2 linked regions of the Homo sapiens genome follow. The protein of the gene in region 1 purifies or fractionates together with the protein of each later gene. This does not show direct contact. Each region holds a gene or a part of one and is shown on either strand. Other genes may lie near its edges.

The links. Proteins that work in one complex are often made in the same cells at the same time.
Region 2: the proteins of PAPOLA (region 1) and CSTF2 fractionate together in Homo sapiens (co-fractionation; one large-scale study listed by BioGRID). This does not show direct contact.

What each region holds. Positions count from the first base shown.
Region 1 is NC_000014.9:96,561,090-96,564,584, forward strand, and holds part of PAPOLA (poly(A) polymerase alpha), read left to right. Parts: intron 1-1,729; coding exon 1,730-1,804; intron 1,805-3,495. UniProt on the Homo sapiens protein: Polymerase that creates the 3'-poly(A) tail of mRNA's. Also required for the endoribonucleolytic cleavage reaction at some polyadenylation sites.
Region 2 is NC_000023.11:100,823,240-100,827,117, reverse strand, and holds part of CSTF2 (cleavage stimulation factor subunit 2), read right to left. Parts: intron 3,827-3,878; coding exon 3,690-3,826; intron 3,233-3,689; coding exon 3,113-3,232; intron 2,999-3,112; coding exon 2,861-2,998; intron 485-2,860; coding exon 361-484; intron 1-360. UniProt on the Homo sapiens protein: One of the multiple factors required for polyadenylation and 3'-end cleavage of mammalian pre-mRNAs. This subunit is directly involved in the binding to pre-mRNAs.

The DNA of each region.
Region 1 (3,495 bases):
TAGGATTTTTGATAGTCCGGGCTGAGATCATGATCTGTCTCTTTGGGTTGAGAATTTGTTATGATTATAGAAGCAGTTTTTGGCGTAAGGTTTTGGCTAGAACCTGGGGTACATGGGGCTTGAATGAGGTGTAGATGGGGTGGAAGAAATTTTTTTTTCCCCAAAATGTAAAAGACTCATTTTTTTTCCCTAGAAATTGAAATCTATTGAAGGCTTTTAACTTTCTTTCCTTGTGGAAAAATTGGAAATTCTCCCCCTTCTCCCAAATTATCCAGATTTCTATGATGGATATTTTAACAAAACTCTCTTAGGTTTTGTGTGTGCCCTCATAATGCCCTTGCTTTATAATTTTGATTCACTTTGTAAACCAAGAAAAAAGTATGTGTATCATTATGTAATCTACAAAATTATTAATGGCTTCATAGAATGCTGTCTTAAGGCTATGATTATTTTTATCCAACCAATTTCCTATCCATAGCAATTATTTCCATTTAAAAAAGAAAGTTGTGCTTTCCTGCTGTAATATTGGTTACAGCTAAATACCATATCTGCCATTCATTCATGTTTATTTACTTAGCATAAATTAATGGAAGAAGAATTATTGAGGAAAATAGTATGCTTTATCTTAAAGTTTGGTATACATCACCAAGTTGTCCTCCAGGAAGGCTGCATGTCTTCCATTCCTACTTCTTACATCTTATTTACCTTTTTTAATTTCATAGGAGAAAACAATATTTCGTTTTTTTTTTTTTTGGTATAGTTTCATTGAAATTGAAGTTTTTATATTTTTCTTTTCTTCTTTGTCCTTTTTTTGGTTTTTTTTGAGATGGAGTCTTGCTCTGTCGCCCAGGCTGGAGTGCAGTGGGACAATCTCGGCTCACTGCAACCTCTGCCTCCTAGGTTCAAGCAATTCTTCTGCCTCAGCCTCCCGAGTAGTGGGGATTACAGGCACCCGCCACCATGCCTGGCTAATTTTGTATTTTTAGTAGAGATGGGGTTTCACCATGTTGGCCAGGCTGGTCTTGAACTCCTGATGTCATGATCTCCCCACCTCGGCCTCCCAAAGTGCTAGGATTACAGGTGTGAGCCACCACGTCTGGCCTATATTTTTATTTTCATTTATTTGTGTAGATATTATTTTCTTTTGTGTACTGCTTTTAAAAAGTTTAGAGTGATGGCATGACATACTTTACCCTGTGTTTTCTGATGAGTAGAATCAGTGCACTGATTACTAGAGAGGGGTGAAGAGACCATAAGGAGGGAGAAATCTTTTTTAGACATATTTTCTACTTTTAATTAAAGGTGTGAGGTTATTTTATTTAGTAGTATTGAATAAGTTTTTTTTTTTTTTTTTCCTCCCACAAAGCTAAGAACTGTCCTTGGGTTTATGCTCTGTTATTGTCTGGGCAACATTTCATGATGTGCCTATGTGTGTTTTTAATTATTGTTTGCTTAAAATGTCCCAAGTTGGAGCTGGTTGGAAAGTCATGAGCTAGTTTGACCCATGCCTTATAAGATTTAAGTAGGCAAATAGAAATTTATTAATATCTGAAATGGTGAAATAACCTACAACATCTACTGACTAGATGTTTTTGTAATGTAGTCACATCTTTCTCTTGATCCCTCCTGTCTTCCAGTTTGTCTTCTTTATTAGCCACCAAACCCAGTTATGTTCTTTTATTCTTTTTTAAGTCTCTTTTCCCCCTTCCCCATCCTCTTTGTCTCACAGGAACAACTTGATACAGAGACAAGTACAACTCAATCAGAAACTATTCAGACAGCGGCTTCTCTGTTGGCCTCTCAGGTACTAAGTGCAAAAAGCAAGGAGAATTTTGTAAATGTCCTTAAGATTAGTGTGGTATATTGAATTAAAGTGAGAGTTCATAGAAGACTATTAAAATTAATCTTTCTGAAAGTAATTACTTGCTAGCCTATAAACGTATTTATTGTAGTTTTAAGGCAGGGCCCTGGATTTGACGGAACCGTTCTCTGGGACTGTTTCGATGTTAACCCATCCCCTTATATTAATATATTATTTGATACTGCAAATCATTTAAATTCTCACTAGTCATTTACACAGGGTTCATATGTAGGTTTTATTTGTAGGTCAAAAGTGAAATTAAAACTAGGAATGAACTAAAAAACATTCTTCGTGGATTTCTTTTGCAAAGGCTAATATATTTTTATTTTAAAAATGTATTTCTGCCTTATTTTTCCACTACTGATTTCAGTTAGTTATTTAATATAGCCCATAGCTCTTCAGAATTATGTTTTCATTTGTCCTAGCAATTCTACTTGTGACAGACCCTCACATACAGAATACAGTAGGCATCTGGAATCTTTTTTCATTGATTTGTGAACCTTCATTTTGTTGAATAATTTTTTTCTTGAATCCTTTCACATGAATGAACCCTAACATCTAGCTCAAATTCTGACACAAAGTAGATATATTCTTTAATAGATGATAAAACTGGTTAATGTCTACAAAGTAACTGAGATAACAACTGCTGCTGTACTGATATGATACTATGTACTATGATGATATTTTGCTGCTCCTGTGCAGCTCCGAGTTATTTTAACGTGATCATTTAAACATGTGCTTTTGCTAGATGTTAACTTTTATTGACTCTAAAGATATATAAATATTATGTTTAGTTTCTGAAATACCTTTTCCATAATCTAATAAAACTTTAGGGGGAGTAACTAACATCAGGAAGTATGCTTAATATTGATACGTGGACAAACTTGTTTATCAGTCTTAAACTGTCCTGTGATTGTGATTGCATGTTTTTTGGTTTGCCACATACTCTCGGGACTTATTTTCATAGTTTTGTCTTACTGAATTTATCCCTATAGTAATTAGTACCCATGGGTATTTGCCTTTTAGATATTTTTATGAGTGAGTAGAATTTTCTTTCTAATGAAAGGATTCATAGAGCCATAGAGAGAAAAATCACCCAGTTATGTAAGAAGAATGATTATGTTGATTTAAAAAAAAATTCATTCCTATCTTTGGTAATGTTAGGGGCGTACTTATTTCTGGGGAGGTGATAATATTGTGGCTATACCTAATAAAGAGTTCTTATTGTTTTGAGATAAATCTGGAAATATTTATAGATGAAATGATAAGATCTCTAGGATTTGCTTCAGAATAACACAAGGTGAATTGAAAGTGGGAGGACAGTGGCTTTGATTTGATAATTGATGAAGCTGGGTAATGAATACATGGGGATGCATTATACAGTGCTCTCTACTTTGTGTATGTTTGGAATTTTCCATAATAAAACTTTTAAAGATCCATCTCTGTATTTTTTTAGTGTTAAAGAACGCTTGTGATTTAATCTAATTAATATGAAAATAATCTACCTAAAATTTAGGATGATTAAATTATTGCTTAGCTGTATATATTTGTTTAATTTACAGTGTCAGAAAATAATAAATTTACTGCTGCTTCTGTATATAAAATGAGCTTTGAGTATTCTCCCACTTGGGGGT
Region 2 (3,878 bases), on another chromosome or scaffold:
GTTTTTATTCCTTCCATCTTACTCTACATTTATTATTACTTATTTTACACTGTCTCTTACTTTTTTCCTCTTCTCTATTTTTGCTGGCTTGATTTTGTTTCCACTCATTCCATTTTCCCCCTTGTTAACTTGGAAGTTTTACTATGCTCTTTCACTTTACTGTCCCTTTCCCTGTTCTTATAATTAGACATACAGGATTTAACGTAAGAAATCTACTATTTCCTCCACCTAAGATATATACTTTCTAGCTGTGTATTAATTTTACCTAAGGATCCCATTATCATATTTGGCTGCACTGCAACAGTGGCTATGACAAAACTTTAGCAAGTACTGAAATGGTGAAGACTAAATGAAACTTACCTCCAGGAGCTAAGGAACCAGGGCCAGGTCCTGTGACAGCAGCTGGCATTTGCCCTGGTGCTGGAACTCCACCCTGCATAGAAGCTTGCATCAGAGGAGGTGCGCCATTGACATGCATTCCACCCTGACCAAGCAAAAAAAACAGAGTATGTATATGCCTCTGTGGATACTCAATATACTAAGTCTACGACCTTAAAAGTCCTCTTCAAATGAACAGCCCCAAATACACTACTAAACATCCTTTTTGTATGGCATGTCTTATGCAGCATTAGATTTGTCACACACTTTAAACTCCACAGAAGCAATATACGTCATGAGCCTGGTTATATGGAACACGGTTAAGATGGAACATATTCTCAATGTAGAGATTGACAAGTCTTATCTGTGTGGCAAGGCAGCACATAACACCTACTGTTAACTTCATGATTGGGGCTGCCAATAAGAGTAAAAAAAAAAAAAAAAAAAAGCCCTAAACCCAAGAAACATAAAAGGAGACTGGGACTCTTTTAAAAAAAACAACTGCTGGTAGTCCACATTTTTAAAATTAAATTTTTTTTTTAATTTAACCAATCTTTTCTCACTCCTGTCCTTAGATATAATTCTGGTTTTGGGGGAATGTGAAATATATTTTTTTAAATGCTACATTAAAACTCGTTGAGAAAAAGAGAATGTCATCTTTTCATCTGTGCATTCCCCAAAAAACTGAGTAGTCCCTTGAATTAGAAACAGCTCAATAAATAAAGAATAAAAGCCAAGTTATATAAAAAAAATCACATATACGTTTAAGGAACACAAAACTCTACAAAAGAAAAGGAAGAGCTGTATAGGAAAGTAGTTAAGAGAAAACTGGCTGTGAGGTCAGATAAAACCAGGTTCAGAAATAGATCTGCCACTTATAATTGTGTCAATTTTTGGACCAGCTAACCTCTCTGGGCCTTAGCTTTTTTTTTCTATCTCTGAAAATGTATTTATTTATTTAGAGCAGGGGTTGGCAAACTATGACCCATGGGCCAAATCGGGCTCACTGCCTGGTTTTATAAACAAACTTTTAACGGAACACAACCACACACACTTGTTCACTTATTGCCTATGGCTGATTTCATACTACCATGGCAGAGTAGCTGTGGCAGATCCTGTGACTTGCAAAGCCAAAAATATTTACTGTCTGATCATTTACAGAAAAATGTTTGCTGGTCCCTGCCCTGTACCTCTGCCAACCTGAGAGATGAAAAATGGTAGCTTATTGTAGTTTCTATTTACATTATCTTATAACATTACATATATAAATGATAATTTATTACATTATCTTATTTTGAAGTTGAATAAATTTTTATATATTTATATTTCTCCTTTTGTGAAATATTTATGTCTATTTCCCATTTTTCTACTGGGTTATTGGAAATTTTCTTACTAATTTATAGGAGGCCTTTTAAAATTTATTATGAAAAATTACAGATATACAAATCATATAGAAAATAAAATAGCCACCCAGCTTAGGAAATAAATAAGTAAATAAAATAAACCAATGGCCTGTACGGTCTTCCCCAATTGCATCCTGTGCTCTCTTCTCCTTTGATGACCACTAAGACGTCTTCTTAATGTTTCAAAATTTTATATGAATCATTACATACTCAATATATTATTTTGCAACTCATTCCACATATTTTGGGGATTTATGCAGAAACATATATCCTACATTTCGGGAATGCATCCATATTCACTTAGTTTCATGTCCGTATGTCACTGTTTTGGAGTTGTGTTGATATTATGTATCCTAGTTCATCTTAACTGCTGTATGGAATTATGTTTTTCAAAGTCATTCATGTTGATACGTGTAGTTTATTTAACTGTTGTACAGTATTTCACTGGATGAATGTACCACACATTTTCTCCATTCTTCCACTGACGTACATTTAGGACATTTCCAATTTTTCACTCTAAGGCAATAAACATTCTTGTGAATGACTATGGGCTCTTTATTAGTCTGTTTTCCATCACATGTGTGGTAAATACTTTTTCTCAATTTGTCATGTCTTTGATACTTATTTTTTTCTTTATATAGAAATTTTTTAGTTTTCAAATGTATCAATTTTTTATGGCTTTAAGGTTTTGTGTCATGCTTTGAAAGCAAGCTTTACTTTTTTCATCAGTAAGAATGGAGATAATAAGAGTGCCAACCTCATACAATTGCTTTGAGGATTAAATGAGATAATGCATATGGAATAACGAAGTGCCAACCACAGTGCCAGGCATGCACATACACACAAAGTTAGCTTATAAGAAAAGGGCATACGGGAAGGATCTCTTTGTTTTACAAACTTGGAATCGAATCTATATTCATTCAGATGTCATGTGCTCTGCAACCTGGAAATTGCTTTTATGCCTGGAAATTGAAATTATCATCTCTGGTTCCTGACCATTCTTCTTTCAATATATTCTCCTAAAAAGAAAATGACATTCTAAGACAGATACAAAAAAATGTTAAGGGATAAAGCCCTACCAAAGACTGGGCCTGAGGGGCCTGAGGATTCTGCTGGTTCATTGACACATTGGATCCTGAGCCAGGCCCAGCACCATGGACTGGCTGAGGGTTGCCTGCAATCAGCGTTGGGATATTTGTCTGGCGATGCAGAATTTTCTAAAAAGTGAAAAGACAAACCTATGAGCTGTCTGTTTAACAAAGCAATCAGGTAGTTCCTATCCCATTCAAGGTTTACCCGACCATTTCCATAAAAGAACCAGAAGCACTCACCAGGGCAATTTCCGGATCCACAATTCTCATCACTACCTGTGCTTGCAGCAAAGCATAAGCCAGTTGAGGGTTCTGAAGTAACATGTTCCGTGCCTCCTGGGGACTATTCTGGACACAGAGCTGAGAAGATAAGCAGATTCAGGTTTAATACTTATGACTTAGAAACTGATAGTGATTTAGAGCCATTCCCCTCTGAGAAATGTAATATTCAAGAGGCTCTTTATCATTAGTTTTTGCATGGCACAAAAAAACCTTGGTCATGGCAGGCAAGAGAAGAAAGAGGCATTTCAAATACTGTGATATTATCATTTAGGAAAAAAGCCAAATTTTAATATCTACATCTGACATCTATGGGCCACAAAACTCCAGCTGGATTGTTTGGATAGCTGTGTTTGTGTACAAAAATAGAAAGCTCTTTGTACAAAATGTAAAATATACTGTGTACATACAGAATATTGAAGGTGCAAGAAATGGTGGTCTACAGACAATTTCTATTTGAGCTCAGGGAACTAATTCAAGTAACTCCTTGAAAACCTGATGTGATTTGCTTTATTCATAACCTAATGCCTCCTCCCACCTTCATTTGTTTCATCAGCTCAAACATCTGCTCTGGTGGAAGGCTGGCAACTGCTTTGCTAATGGACTCAGGGGCATCCTCAGGACTGATGGTCTCTCCATAAGGTGACTCAATGACAGGGGCACCAGTGCCAAGGCCTAATCAAGAAGAAAGTACAAGAAAGTTAGGGAGGCAAAACAAAAAGCTAAA